4 linked regions of the Homo sapiens genome follow. The protein of the gene in region 2 purifies or fractionates together with the protein of the main gene of each other region. This does not show direct contact. Each region holds a gene or a part of one and is shown on either strand. Other genes may lie near its edges.

The links. The genes of interacting proteins can lie anywhere in the genome.
Region 1: the proteins of CDH16 (region 2) and SLC39A6 purify together in Homo sapiens (affinity purification with mass spectrometry; one large-scale study listed by BioGRID and IntAct). This does not show direct contact.
Region 3: the proteins of CDH16 (region 2) and PCDHGA11 purify together in Homo sapiens (affinity purification with mass spectrometry; one large-scale study listed by BioGRID and IntAct). This does not show direct contact.
Region 4: the proteins of CDH16 (region 2) and DCBLD1 purify together in Homo sapiens (affinity purification with mass spectrometry; one large-scale study listed by BioGRID and IntAct). This does not show direct contact.

What each region holds. Positions count from the first base shown.
Region 1 is NC_000018.10:36,110,186-36,112,340, forward strand, and holds part of SLC39A6 (zinc transporter ZIP6 isoform 1 precursor), read right to left. Parts: intron 1,065-2,155; coding exon 874-1,064; coding exon of another isoform or gene 862-873; exon of another isoform or gene 809-861; intron 1-808. UniProt on the Homo sapiens protein: Zinc-influx transporter which plays a role in zinc homeostasis and in the induction of epithelial-to-mesenchymal transition (EMT).
Region 2 is NC_000016.10:66,908,886-66,912,385, forward strand, and holds part of CDH16 (cadherin-16 isoform 1 precursor), read right to left. Parts: coding exon 3,357-3,500; intron 3,256-3,356; coding exon 3,014-3,255; intron 2,431-3,013; coding exon 2,297-2,430; intron 1,618-2,296; coding exon 1,375-1,617; intron 1,209-1,374; coding exon 1,101-1,208; intron 499-1,100; coding exon 382-498; intron 1-381. UniProt on the Homo sapiens protein: Cadherins are calcium-dependent cell adhesion proteins. They preferentially interact with themselves in a homophilic manner in connecting cells; cadherins may thus contribute to the sorting of heterogeneous cell types.
Region 3 is NC_000005.10:141,419,888-141,423,850, reverse strand, and holds the start of PCDHGA11 (protocadherin gamma-A11 isoform 1 precursor), read right to left. Parts: upstream 2,801-3,963; 5' UTR 2,624-2,800; coding exon 191-2,623; coding exon of another isoform or gene 110-190; exon of another isoform or gene 1-109. Other genes in the region: PCDHGB7 (protocadherin gamma-B7 isoform 1 precursor), read right to left, coding at 3,577-3,963. UniProt on the Homo sapiens protein: Potential calcium-dependent cell-adhesion protein. May be involved in the establishment and maintenance of specific neuronal connections in the brain.
Region 4 is NC_000006.12:117,499,674-117,503,173, reverse strand, and holds part of DCBLD1 (discoidin, CUB and LCCL domain-containing protein 1 isoform 1 precursor), read right to left. Parts: intron 1-3,500.

The sequences.
Region 1 (2,155 bases), on a different chromosome or scaffold from region 2:
AGATTGGTTGGGATTGTTTTGAGGACATTAGTGACAAAAAGATATGACTCCTTTGTTGATTAATAAACTAAGCATTCTGAAGTATACAGCATGCCAACAATATGCATCTTGTCCTAGACTTCCTACAAATCTATAGAAAATTCACTGCCTGATTACTGAGATCATACCCTAAAATGATACATCAGAAGGATGTAGATATTTTTGTGAATCTGGACACATATTAAGCAAGATAAAGGTGTGATCAACAATCCAAAAAAAAAAAAAAAACTCTAAAGAACCTATATTCTTATATGCCACAAATTTCTGAATATAGAATCACTTCTCATAATGACTGCATTTAAAATCTTTTTTAAAAAAATGATTTTTTTTTTGAGACAGAGTCTTGCTCTGTTGTCCAGGCTGGAGTGCAGTAGTACAATCTCAGCTCACTGCAACCTCCATCTCCTGGGTTCAAGTGATTCTCCTGCCTCAGCCTCCCAAGTAGCTGGGACTACAGGCGCATGCCACCAACCCTGGTTAATTTTTTTGTAGTTTTTAGTTGAGACAGGGTTTCACCATGTTGGCCAGCCTGGTCTCGAACTCCTGACCTCACGTGATCTGCCTGGTTTGGTCTCCCAAAATGTTGGACTAACAGGCATGAGCCACCGTGCCCAGCCAAAAAAAAAGATATTTTATTGAGCCTATAGTCCTAGCTACTCAGGAGGCTGAGATGGAAGGATCATTTGGGCTCAGGAATTTGAGACCAGCCTGGACGACATAGCAAGATTCCACTTCCTGCTCCCCCAAAAAGAGAGAAAAAAAATGAGGCTTTACCGAATATTTTCTCTATTTTATTGTTGGTCAATAATGTAATAAGACTTCTTAAAAACTTACCATATCAACCAGAGCAACATACATGAATAAGCCAGCAGTAAGTGCAAATATCCACATAGAAACATTTTCAGCATAATGACCAATGAAAATTCCTGTTGCCATTCCAAGATACGCCAGCATGGCTGACAATGCATTATAAAGGACAGCCTGCTTAACGGTCATGCCAGCCTTTAGTAGAACAGCAAAGTCACCTTTAACAGAAAACAAAAAAGGAGGAAAAAGTCATTGAGAAATCATTTTTAAGACACATACCAAGATACTTCCCAGATTTAAGAAAATTTTCCAGTGTTTTTGAGAGGGGGAAAAGAAAACAAAATTAAGAATGACCTAGGGTTAAAGCAGTGTTAGTAAATCACCCTAACAGCTGTAGAAACTATTGTTTTTCCTTTTTATTCTTCATCATTCAACTTGATGTACAAACTTTTTTTTTTTTTCTTTTTTTTGAGACAGTATCTTGCTCTGTCACCCAGGCTGGAGTGCAGTGGCACCGATCTTGGCTCATTGCAACCTCTGCTTCCTGGGTTCAAGCCATTCCTGTGCCTCAGCCTCCTGGGTAGCTAGGACTACAAGTGCATGCCACCACACCTGGATAATTTTTTTACTTTTAGTAGAGACGGGGTTTCACCATGTTGACCAGGGTGGTTTTGAACTTCTGACCTCAGGTGATCCCCTTGCCCCGGCCTCCCGAAGTGCTGGGATTAAAGGCGTGAGCCACTGCACCTGGCCAGATACCTTAACCAAAAAAATTTTTTAAGGCTTACACTTTGTCAAAATGATAAACACTAAAAATTTAATATTGTGGTCTTGCAGTGTTTTCAAGGAGCTTGGAATTTGGCCACAAAGAAGGGAGGAATGGGTGGAGAACACACATGAGATGATCAGCAAATGATAATGGTAATGCATAAAAAACAGCTGAAGAGTTCAATGCTACAATTATAAAAGGAGAAAAGAGACACATGAAGATGGAAATAAGAGAGGGGCTTCATGGGACTTGAATGTGGAACATAGATGCTGAAGATGATAAGGAATGGCTGAACATATAACAAGGAACAAAAGTGAAAATGGCATCAGCGGTATGTGTGTGAATATATCTCCAAAACAAGAAAAACAAGGACGTGAACTGGGATCCAGAACTTGGGAAGGTTTTAATGCCTAGTGACAAAGAAGAACAATATTGAAAACACAACTCATCCACTTCCCTTCAATTCCAATGAGATTCTCTTTCTCAACTTTTGTTAATGGAAGATGATTCCTTTGTATCCTGTAGTCTTATTCACCTTGT
Region 2 (3,500 bases):
TGATGCAATTAGGCTAGAAAGACCTGGGTTCTGTCACAACCTGACTGTGTAACCTTGGACCAGTCACTTAACCTCTCTGAGCCTCAATGACCTCATCTGCAAAATGGGGAGATACCAGGATCTACCTCACAGGGTTGCTGGGAGGATTCCTGGCAATAGTCCCTGCCACACAGTCAATGTGCAATCATGTGACCGTAGATGCTACTATCAATGATGATGACAATGACTATGATCAAAGGGCAGGCGCATAATGACTAGGAGAGTTGGGGGCTTCCTTTTTCAGAGCTAGGGGCACCATGGGGACAAAGGTGTTTATTTGGAGGCTGTGGTCCCAACCACCCATCGCCCTCGCCCACGCAGGTAATGTCCAACCTCCATTACCTATTGCTACCAGGGTGCCTACAAGGATGCCCACTGCCGACAGCTTCGTGGGCATGCCCTTCATGCGGCCCACCTTGCGCATGCACTGCCCCTCCACGTTGCAGCGACACACGATCACTGAGGGGAGAGGGGAGGAAGGTAAGGGGAGGGAGGGGAGGGCTCCCCAGCTGCTCAGAGCCCCCAGCCCAGCCACCTGGCTGATATGTGTGTGTTTCTGCACATGTGTGTATTCACATGTGTGTGAAGATATATGCGCTAGCCAGGCGTGGTGGCTCACACCTGTAATCCCAGCCCTTTGGGAGGCCGAAATGGGTGGATCACTTAAGCCAGGAGTTCATGGCTGGCATGGTGAAACCCCATCTCTACTAAAAATACAAAAATTAGCAGGGCATGATGGTGCACACCTGTAATCCCAGCTTCTTGGGAGGCTAAGGCAGAAGAATTGCTTGAATCTGGGAGGCGGAAGTTGTAGTGAGCCGAGATCATGCCACTACACTCCAGCCTGGGTGACAGAGTGAGACTCTGTCTCAAAAAAAAATGTATGTGCCTCTGTGCCTGTTCCTGTGTGCCCAGGTATGTGTGCCCAGCCATAGGTGTGCAAGTGTGCACAGGCATGTGCTGTCCACATGAGCAGCCTGTATGCATGTGTACCAGCTCCCTCCCCTTGCATCCCAGCGGTTCCCTCAGGAACTGCAGGCTGCACCCAAGCCCAATCTCACCTCGAACCAGGAGCTGCCACATCTGGGCATTGTGGCTGACCACCACGGGGATTATGTGTTCACGTGGCTCCACCCAATGCAGGGCCAAGGTGAGGTAGGCATGGGAACCTTTTGGGACAGCAGGCAAAGACCAGGGTCACCAGCCTGGACAGGCCCTCTGGGGGCTGCTCCCCCTAGGCCTAGCCCCACCCCCATGGTAGAAGGGTATCTCACTTCCAAGTGACACCCCCTCCCTGCCTTGGCCACAGCCTCCCTCCCTTTCCCCACCACACACCATTGAGAGTCTGGAGGCGCCAATCCCGTTGCACCGTGGGGTTGGGACCAAGGGTGAAGCTGTAGGGACCGTGCCCACTGGCCAGATCGGGGTCCTTGCTGGGTCCACTCACGATCAAGCCATGGTCTTGGCGGGGTGTGCAGAGGTATTGGGAGGGCACAGGGGCAAGAGTCAGGGCTGGGGCAGGAGGGGCCTTTAGGAAGTGGATCACCAGGGGTGCAGAAGCGCTCAGTCTCGGCTCATCTGCAGAGGAGGCAGTGCTGAGCTGGCCAGGTGTTGCCAGGGGGAGGGTGAGCTCTGAGGTCCCTGGGCTGCTCCCGCAGCCCATGAGCCTCGCCTTATAGACTCCCCTGCCATGCTCCCTCCATGCTTCTCTCCACCTGTCATCATCCCCATGCCACTGTGGACATCCCTGACTTTGGCGGAGCTCACTGCTGCTGGGTCTGCCCTGTATCACAGCCCAGCTCAGAGTTGAAACCTGCCTCCCGGGGCTCCCCACCCCAGGGCCAGCTCTCTGTCCTGAGCAGTGTTCAGTGTCCTCCACACCTGGCTCCAGTGGCCCATTCACTCCAGCACTCCTTCCCCAGGGGCAGCCCCTGGTCCTCCTGCCACCTCCCCGGCCCTATACCAGTCCCTGAAGCTGACACCCTGAGAGGCCCTCCAGTGGCTAAAGGACAGGGCTGGGAGATTTTGTGTGTCAATCTAGGAGAATGATCAGAGAGGGGAGGCAGATGCCAGACTTGCCCACCGGAGGAGTAGATCCATTCTCAGAGAGGAACATTGAACCCAGCTTCATATCTGCCTCTCCTGCTTGGGGCTGGGGGTTGCCAGTGAGGGCCTCTGGGAGGAAGCTCAGTCCTGCTGTCTGTCTGTCTGAGGTTTGTACCCCCTCCCAGGGGCTCCCATCACTGCCTGGCCATACCTGTATCCTGGGCCTCCACAAGCACCGTGTAGGTGTCCCCAGGCTGGGCGCCCTGCAGGGACTGGGCGGTGTGCACCTCCCCGGAGAATTTCTCAATGCAGAGCCAGCCCTCTGAGTCATTGACTAGGGAGAACCTGCCGCCCAAAGAAGGAGGTGAGGAGGTACTGGGACTACATATAGGGTTTTGCTCAGAATCCCCCAGGGCTGTGTGACTTGCTTAAATTCCACACCCTCTCTGTGACTCAGGGGCCACAGCAAAGCCTGGGGGGCCCAGTCTCTCTCTCCAGCTTCAGGATTTGTTGTGGTGGTGGTGGTGGGTGTGGGATGAAGAACAGATCATGTGGGTAAGGGAGAAACTCTTAGAGCCTGGGAGGCCCATTTCAACTTTGCTCACTCCAGGTCACCCTGCAAGGGAATCAGAGTCTATGAACAACCTTGTCTGTCTGCAATCTGTTGGGGGGCATTGGAGGAGGGCCTGGTCCTCCCTCCAGGTGCTGAGGCATAATCTGAGCTCTCATGGGGTCCAAAACACCCCTCTCCATGCCCCACCCAGTCCATCCAGCCCCGATCCCTGCCAGGAGTCACAACCTTGGCATTTGCCATAGTTTGAGAAATTTTGCAGGCCACAGATAATGTGAGTCCCCTCTGAGGCCCTGGGGTCATCCCCAGGGAGCAGGGGCAATCCAGTCCAGGTAAGGGGCTGGGATTTTAGCTCACCTGAGGGTTCGGCTGATGGGGTCGGAGGGCTGGATGGTCAGCAGGAAAGAGCCGGCTGGGGCACTGATGGGGACACTGGCCTCGTAGCTCTCCTGGTCCAACTTGGGGGGTGGCATCACTCTCTCCACTAGCACAGTCACCGTGGCGGTGGCTCCAGGGCCTGGGCCTGGCCCCACCAGCTTCGCCACACTCTGCACCACCACCACCACCTCATGACTTGGAGCTGCCTCATAACTGAGGTTCTGGAACCAGGAGGCCCAGGTCACTGTGCGGGCCTGGGCAAGGCACATGTGCATGCATGCGTGCATGTGTGGGCCCCTTTCCCAGCTACCCAGGCCCTCACCTTGCAGAGTCTGAGTCTAACATGCCCAGAGTCTGGCTCCCAATCCAGGCCAAAAGTCCCTTCTGTGTCTCCCCTCTCAATGGCAAAATCCATGAGGCGGAAGGCGGGCTCGAGGTCAGCATCAATGGCTGTTAGCATGGCCAC
Region 3 (3,963 bases), on a different chromosome or scaffold from region 2:
TTCTGAAAGATTATCGTAATCTCATGAAAGGCAAAGTAAAACTCACATGTATTGCTCTAAATATATATGAACTAAATATATGCCGCCCCACCCCCCCCCCAAACAGTTTTCATAACAGGCTCAAAAAACATCTCCTTAAAAGACTTGTGCCAAGACACCAACAATTAGGAGGCAGAGAAATAAATCTCACCTGATTACTTGTCGGGTCACATTTGCCTAAAATGATAGCTGAGTCTTCAGCTATCAAGAGTGGCTCGCTTTTCTCACAGCTCTCCTGGCTGATGAGCGTGTCCCCATAGTTGGGCTGGGGGAAAATCAGGTGACTCTTCTGCGAGTCCGCAATGAGAGAGACCTCGTGGGAATAGGTTTGCAGGAAAGCCTGTACCCCGTCCACGCCTACAAAATGTGACGTGGGCATACCTGCCAACCCGCCTTCAGAAGCCTGCAGCAGGCGTGACTTATGCCAGCGCCACAGCCTGAGTGCCAGCAGCACGATGACAAAGACCAGGAAGATGCAGGAGACTGCGGCCACCGCCACCACCAAGTACAGCGAGAGGTCTGAGGTTTCAGAGTTAGCCAGAGACTCGAGGCTGCCGAGGTCCGCCAGGACTTCGGGGATGCTGTCGGCCACAGCCACGGTGAGCGTGACGGTGGCCGAGAGAGGGGGCTGGCCGTGGTCCTGGACGGCCACCACGAGGCTCTGCTTGAGCGCGTCTCTGTCCAGCAGTGCCCGCGCTGTACGCACCTCGCCCGTGTGCTCCCCCACCGCGAAGAGTCCCGGCTCGCTGGCCTTAAGCAGGCGATAGGACAGCCAGGCGTTCTGGCCTGAATCTTTGTCCACCGCAACCACCTTGGTCACCAGGTAGCCAGGTTCCGCAGAGCGGGGCGCCAGCTCCACGCCAGTGGAGCCGTCTGTGGGGAGGGCAGGGTACAGGATCTCGGGCGCATTGTCGTTCTGGTCCAGCACGAACAGGCTCAGCGACACGTTGCTGCTGAGGGGCGGGTCCCCGCTGTCACGTGCTATCACTCTCAGTTCTAAGTCTCGAAACTGCTCATAGTCGAAGGATTGTAGGGCATAGAGAACACCAGTGTTGGAGTTAATAGAGACATAGGAGGACAGAGGCACCCCCTGGACAGTGTCATCCGTCAGAGAGTAAGTGACCAGGGCATTCTGTTTGCTGTCCGGGTCGAGGGCGGTCACTGAGAAGATGGAGGCACCCCTGGGGTTGTTTTCGGGAATGTAGGCAGAGTAAGAGGAGTGAGGAAAAACGGGAGGGTTATCGTTGTCATCTGCCACATTCAGCCAGACATGAGTTTCTGCAGACAAAGGCGGGCTTCCCTGGTCTGTGGCTGTCAACGTTATATTGTAGCTCTGGACCAACTCCCTGTCCAGCACTCTGCTTGTTATCAATTTGTAATAATTTCCATAAGTCTTTTCTAATTTAAAAGGCAGGTGGTTAGGAATAAAACAGGAGACTTGACCATTTTCTCCAGAATCTTGATCTTGCACATTTAGAAGAGCAATCACTGTACCTGGAGGAGAGTTTTCCAGAATTGAATTAATAGAAGAGGTGATAGTTATTTCTGGAGCGTTATCATTCACATCCACAACAGTGATCAACATCGTCGTGGTGGTAAAGAGACCTCCACCATCTTGGCCTTGAATTTCCATCTCATAGAATCTATATTTTTCAAAATCCAGAGACCCCCGTACTTGAACTTCTCCAGTTTGTGAATCCAATTGGAATATTTCAGAAGCCTTGCTTTCCATGTTCCGAAATGAATACATTACTTCCCCGTTGATTCCCTCGTCTGGATCCGTTGCATTAACCATCAGCACCCGAGTTCCGGAGCTGATGTTTTCTGGAACACTCACGCGATATACGGACTGTGTAAACATTGGGATGTGATCATTTACATCGAGGACCACCACACGAATGGGAACTGCGCCCTTTCGGATGGGATCGCCTCCATCTAAAGCTGTGAGGAGGAGCAGGTGAGCAGCCTCTTTCTCTCGGTCCAGGCTTCCCTCCAGTACTAGCTCTGGATTCTTGGCCCCATCCGTTCTGCCCCGCAGTTGCAAGGAAAAGTAATTATTAGGGCTGAGCTGGTAGCTCTGGAGGGAGTTCACGCCCACATCTGGATCCCTAGCATTAGGAAGAGCAAATCGCGCCCCAGGAATTGCGTGCTCACTGACTTTTATCTCCACTTCGTCCTCCTGGAAGCTGGGGGCGTTATCATTAATATCTATTATTTCCACCTCCACTCCGTAAATCTTCAAGGTGTCTTCCACGAGAAGTTCCATATTTAAAAAACAGGAGGACACCGTCTCACAGAGCTCCTCCCGGTCTATCCTGCCTGCCGTGATCAAGCTGCCGCTTCGCGGATTCACAGCGAAAAGCTGTGTCTTCCCTCTGGAGACGATGCGGACTCCGCGCTTCGCCAGCTCCCGGGGCTCCAGCCCCAGGTCCTTGGAGATATTGCCCACGAAGGAGCCCTTTTCGGTCTCTTCTGGCACCGAATATCGGATCTGCCTGGCCCGGAACCCCCGCAGCGTCCCCAGGAAAATGCACAGCAGCAGCAGCAGCCGACTGCGGTCCCCGCGCTGTAGCCGATTCGCCATGGCAGGCTCTAAGCCGATATTCCGCGGTTTCTCGAGCTGGTTGGTTGTGAATCGGCTTATGTATCTATGAAGTCCTAGGCCGACTACATCCAAAATATATCAGAAAGCGAAGGAAAATACTTCTAAGTCTCCAGTGTCAGGATCTGTGAGTATCCATCTCATTCCGCTTTGTGTGGTAGAGGCGGGGGAGGGAGGGACTCAATGGCGCGCAGCTTCCCATTCCCTGATTGGTGAGCAGCGGCGCCTAGAGCCCATTCTTATTATTGCAACGACTAAGAAATTCCAGAAGAAATGATTACGCTCACCTTTGTGAATCACACGTATTTGTAGAGCTTAAAAACGATGATACACAATACTTACATTATGTGACGTTAAAACTTTACCAAGAACACCTGCGAAAGGAGTAATTATTAAAAGGGCTTGCTTAATTTTTAAAAAGTTTTCAAAATATTACTGGAGCTGAAAACTTGTAGGTTGTAGTTGGTTCCAATTGATTTTAACCGACTGAAAGGAACGACATTTCTGGAAGTGGAAATAATACGGTCCCGATAAAATCATCAGGTAGGATGCCTAACTATAATTCTTACAAGGTTCCTTTATTGAGTAAATGAAGATGAAATACTTGAGAAAAATTGAGTAGCATCAGGGTTTCAATTAAAATACCATGCCGTAAAAATATACCTGTATTTTATATTTTTAACCGAAAGGTATTTTACTTCATAAAAATGTCACCGGAGATTACCCATGTAGTTTGCTTTAAAATGTCTTTGAATAGTAGGAAGACTGAGGCATTTAATTTAAACTTTTGTTTTAATAATGATAACCATAAATTTGACCTATATTTTGCGAACTCTATGAAGAAGTTATCTAGAATCTTAAAATAATACCACTATATTGGAATATATTGGCATATTGTAATATAAAAAGGATTAAATACATTTTTAAATACTTACCTGTTTAAGAATCTTCTTATCTGCTTCAACGCTGGGAGTTAAAATGCTAGCCAGTAGCATGCTATCTTTGTTGAGGTTATCTTGTGTGGCTGGACAATGATCAACAGATGTGAAAAAATTAAATTCTGGATTCATTTGATCCCCAGGCACACAAAAATTATAGGCATAGGGCAACGTTCCCTCACTGTAGTTGGGGGGACCCACAGGTCCGGACTTGGAGCAGAGAACTGACTCAAAGCAGTCTCCTGCAGTAGGGCTGAAAGACTGTCGCAGGCGTAGAGCAATAGCTAGAATCACCGCGAGGAGAAAGAGCACAGAAATCAAGGCCAAGGCCACCACCAGGTAAAACTGCATCTCAGCCTGGGAGTCAGAGGGTGTGGGATGGTC
Region 4 (3,500 bases), on a different chromosome or scaffold from region 2:
TCAAGGATCTACTATGTTGAGTGCTTTTCATAACCAGACATGGTATTAAAAGCTGGAAACACAAAAGCAGCACTTGCTGTCTCATAGAACTCAGAGTAAAATGGCAAATAGTCACACATTCAAATAACTATAATTCTAGGTGCTATGTGTTATATATACATCAGGGGTCTAAACAAAATGCAAAGGAGAGAGGCAAGAAAGAATGTTGCAGCGAATTACCAGCATTTCATCAAAACAAGAAATTATCTGAAGACTTTTCTGAATAGGGAAGTTCACCTATTAACCTACAAGTTGCTCTAGTTGATTGAAGTGACTTAGTCAATCACACAACTATCCAAGGACATGCACAACTGGGTGGGCTGCAAGGAGAATGAGCATACACTGCATTCAGATTGCAAAATGTCTGTGGTTAGCACAGCTTCACATAAATGAAGCAAAAATTTCTGGTCTCAGCTGGAGGGAGAGAAGCAGAAAGCTGTTGAAGAAGGAACTCTCAAAGGTAGTAAAAGAAGGCCTCTCCATCCCAAAGTCTCTGATGGAGAAGCCTCACCTTGGGTATACTGTGAATCTGAGGACCTCAAAGCAGCCCTCTTCCCTCCCAGCCTCTTCCCCAGTTAGAGGTGGATTCAGGAGTCTTCCTTTATTCCACTTCCTTCTTGCCTTGAGGTGTTGGGGCCAAATGGTAATAGAGGTTTATTAAAAAATAAAAAGAAAAAAGAAAAAGATTTGAAAACTCCAGAATCTACATCATCTCAACAGCCAAGGCCTAGGGAAAGGATCTACCCATTATCCAGAAACTCCCACGAGATTCCTGGCAGCCCCTGACAGAGGGCTGAATTGGGGAAATAGAGTTGGCTTTAATGGACCAATGGGTTAAGAAGTGCCGGGGGGAACTTTAGACAGCCAAGATAAAACTACTATGAAGCCCTGAGATCTAGGCAGAATTAGTGAAATTTACATGGTAGGCAACAAAGACACATAGAATTTTTTGAGTAGGAAGATAACGAAACAGGTATTAGAAAAAGATGATCAACCTGGCTGGACAACGCTACAGGAACTAGAATGGGGACAGAATCTGGATCAGAGGAGCAGTAGGCAGGCTAGCAATGGGGGTAGCTGGAACAGGAAGGAAGGGAACAGAAAACAGGCAAATTCTTGAGACAAAATCAACAGACTCAGGTTTGGGGGAACTATGGTGAGAAGAACAAAGGAGAAAAAACACCAAGGCCTTGTTCAGTCCAGAAATGATTGCAACACAGAGGCCAATATAGACAGCAAAAAGAGTCCAGAGAGGGAGCAGGTTTGGGCCCAAAGGTTGTAAGTTTGGTTAAGTTTGAGGTGACGGCTAAATTCCTTGGGCTCCCTGGCAGTTGGTAAACACAAAATTGCCAAGAATTAAATGAAAATGATACAAGAGAGAAGCATAGTGTGCAGGAGCACACAGTGCACGGGGCTTTGATTTGAAATCTGAATTATTTGTCGGCTTTAAAGGGCTTTAATAAAATATCCAATTTATAGTTTCTCTTTAAAACTGAAGGACAAACTGGGAGTGGTGGCTCATGCCTGTAATTCCAGCATTTTGGGAGGCCAAGGCAGCGGATCACCTGAAGTCAGGAGTTCGAGACCAGCCTGACCAACATGGTGAAACCCTGTGTCTACTAAAAATACAAAAATTAGCTGGGCATGGTAGCGCGAGCCTGTAATCTCAGCTACTCGGGAAGCTGAGGCAGGAGAATCGCTTGAACCCAGGAGGCAGAGGTTGCAGTGAGCTGAGATCATGCCACTGAACTCCAGCCTGGGCAAGAGTGAGATTCCGTCTCAACAACAACAACAACAACAATGACAACTGAAAGACGTGACAACCACATGATCAGGCATTCTCACAGGGCTAGTGACACAGTGGCTGTCCCTTGAAAGGAGCCAAACACCCTAGTTCTTCACCAGGTCCTTGTTACTCATTTCTGTTACCTGCCCTACCTTTGTAAGCATTTATTTTGAGCACCCTCATAAAGCAATCCTAGGGTAATTAGTACAAACAAATATGCATCTCAATATAAACACAACACAACCTCTCCAAGCCACCAAAAAATCTCCTGATCAAATATTTAAATGTCACTTTTCTTAGGACTATGAAATTCTCCTTTCATAAAAGAGGAAGAGAAAAACTTTTTTTTTTTCAGAAAACAGTTAAATATGAAATAAGGAGCAATTATATGAGTCAACCTACATGTGACTATCATATTCTAAATTTTATTTTTTTAAAGTGACATGTGTCAGCAAAAGAAAATCTTAGGGTGTCACTGTTTTTTTTGAGACGAAGTCTCACTCTGTCGCCCAGGCTGGAGTGCAGTGGCAGGATCTTGGCTTACTGCAGCCTCTGCCTCCTGGGTTCAAGCGATTCTCCTGCCTCAGCCTCCCGAGTAGGTGGGACGACAGGTGCATTTACGTACGGCTAATTTTTTTGTATTTTTAGTAGAGACGGGGTTTCACCGTGTTAGCCAGGATGGTCTCGATCTCCTGACCTCATGATCCACCCACCTCGGCCTCCCAAAGTGCTGGGATTACAGGCGTGAGCCACCGCACCCGGCCAGGGTATCACTTTTATTCAGCCCTGTAATTGTATTTCTTTCCGACCACTTCCACTGTAAGGCCTAAGAGGAAACTTCTTTCACCCAGCAATGCTGGCACAATGCAGGCAAGTTCAAATCGTCAACATTCCCATCGTTACTTTGCCTGGGGATCTCTACCTCCTTGGGAAAATTTCTCTCTTCCATTAACTATCAGAACAAAACCCCATGAGTCTTTGTTCTGCCAAAGAACCTGAATCGCAAAGGAAGTGCTGAGTCCTAATTTATTAAAAAGCGAACTGTCATCAGAAGTTCTAGTATCACTCTAACCTATGGAAGTAGACTATTTATGGAGTTTTCTGTGGCAAGACTAATATAATAAGTTTATTCCATGGGTATTAACTACATCAGGAATTTTCACTCTCTTGTGCTTCCACAGTTTGGGTGATTTCAAAGGATTAAGTAGAAAGATGCCAAAGGGTAAAATGAAAAACTGCTAGGGAGAGAAAATGCCTACAATGTCATGTGTTGAAGAAGGCAGATGCGTACACATGAAAACCAATAGACAAGTATTATTTATTTATTTTTGAGACGGACTTTCGCTTTTGTTGCCTAGGCTGGAGTGCAGTGGTGCGATCTCAGCTCACCGCAACCTCCGCCTCCCAGGTTCAAGCGATTGTCCTGCCTCAGCCTCCTGAGTAGCTGCGATTACAGGCATGCGCTACCACACCCAGCTAATTTTGTATTTTTAGTAGAGATGAGGAGAAGCATTATTCTTATTACCTCATTCTGACACTCAGGTAGCCTACCTCTCATAGCCTGACTCTCTCTAATTGACAATCACTGACAAAGAAGACAAAAGTTACTTAAAAATCTATCAGTTTATCTTCTTTGTCTTAGGTATCAATGTCAGTATCCTGGTTGTGATATGGT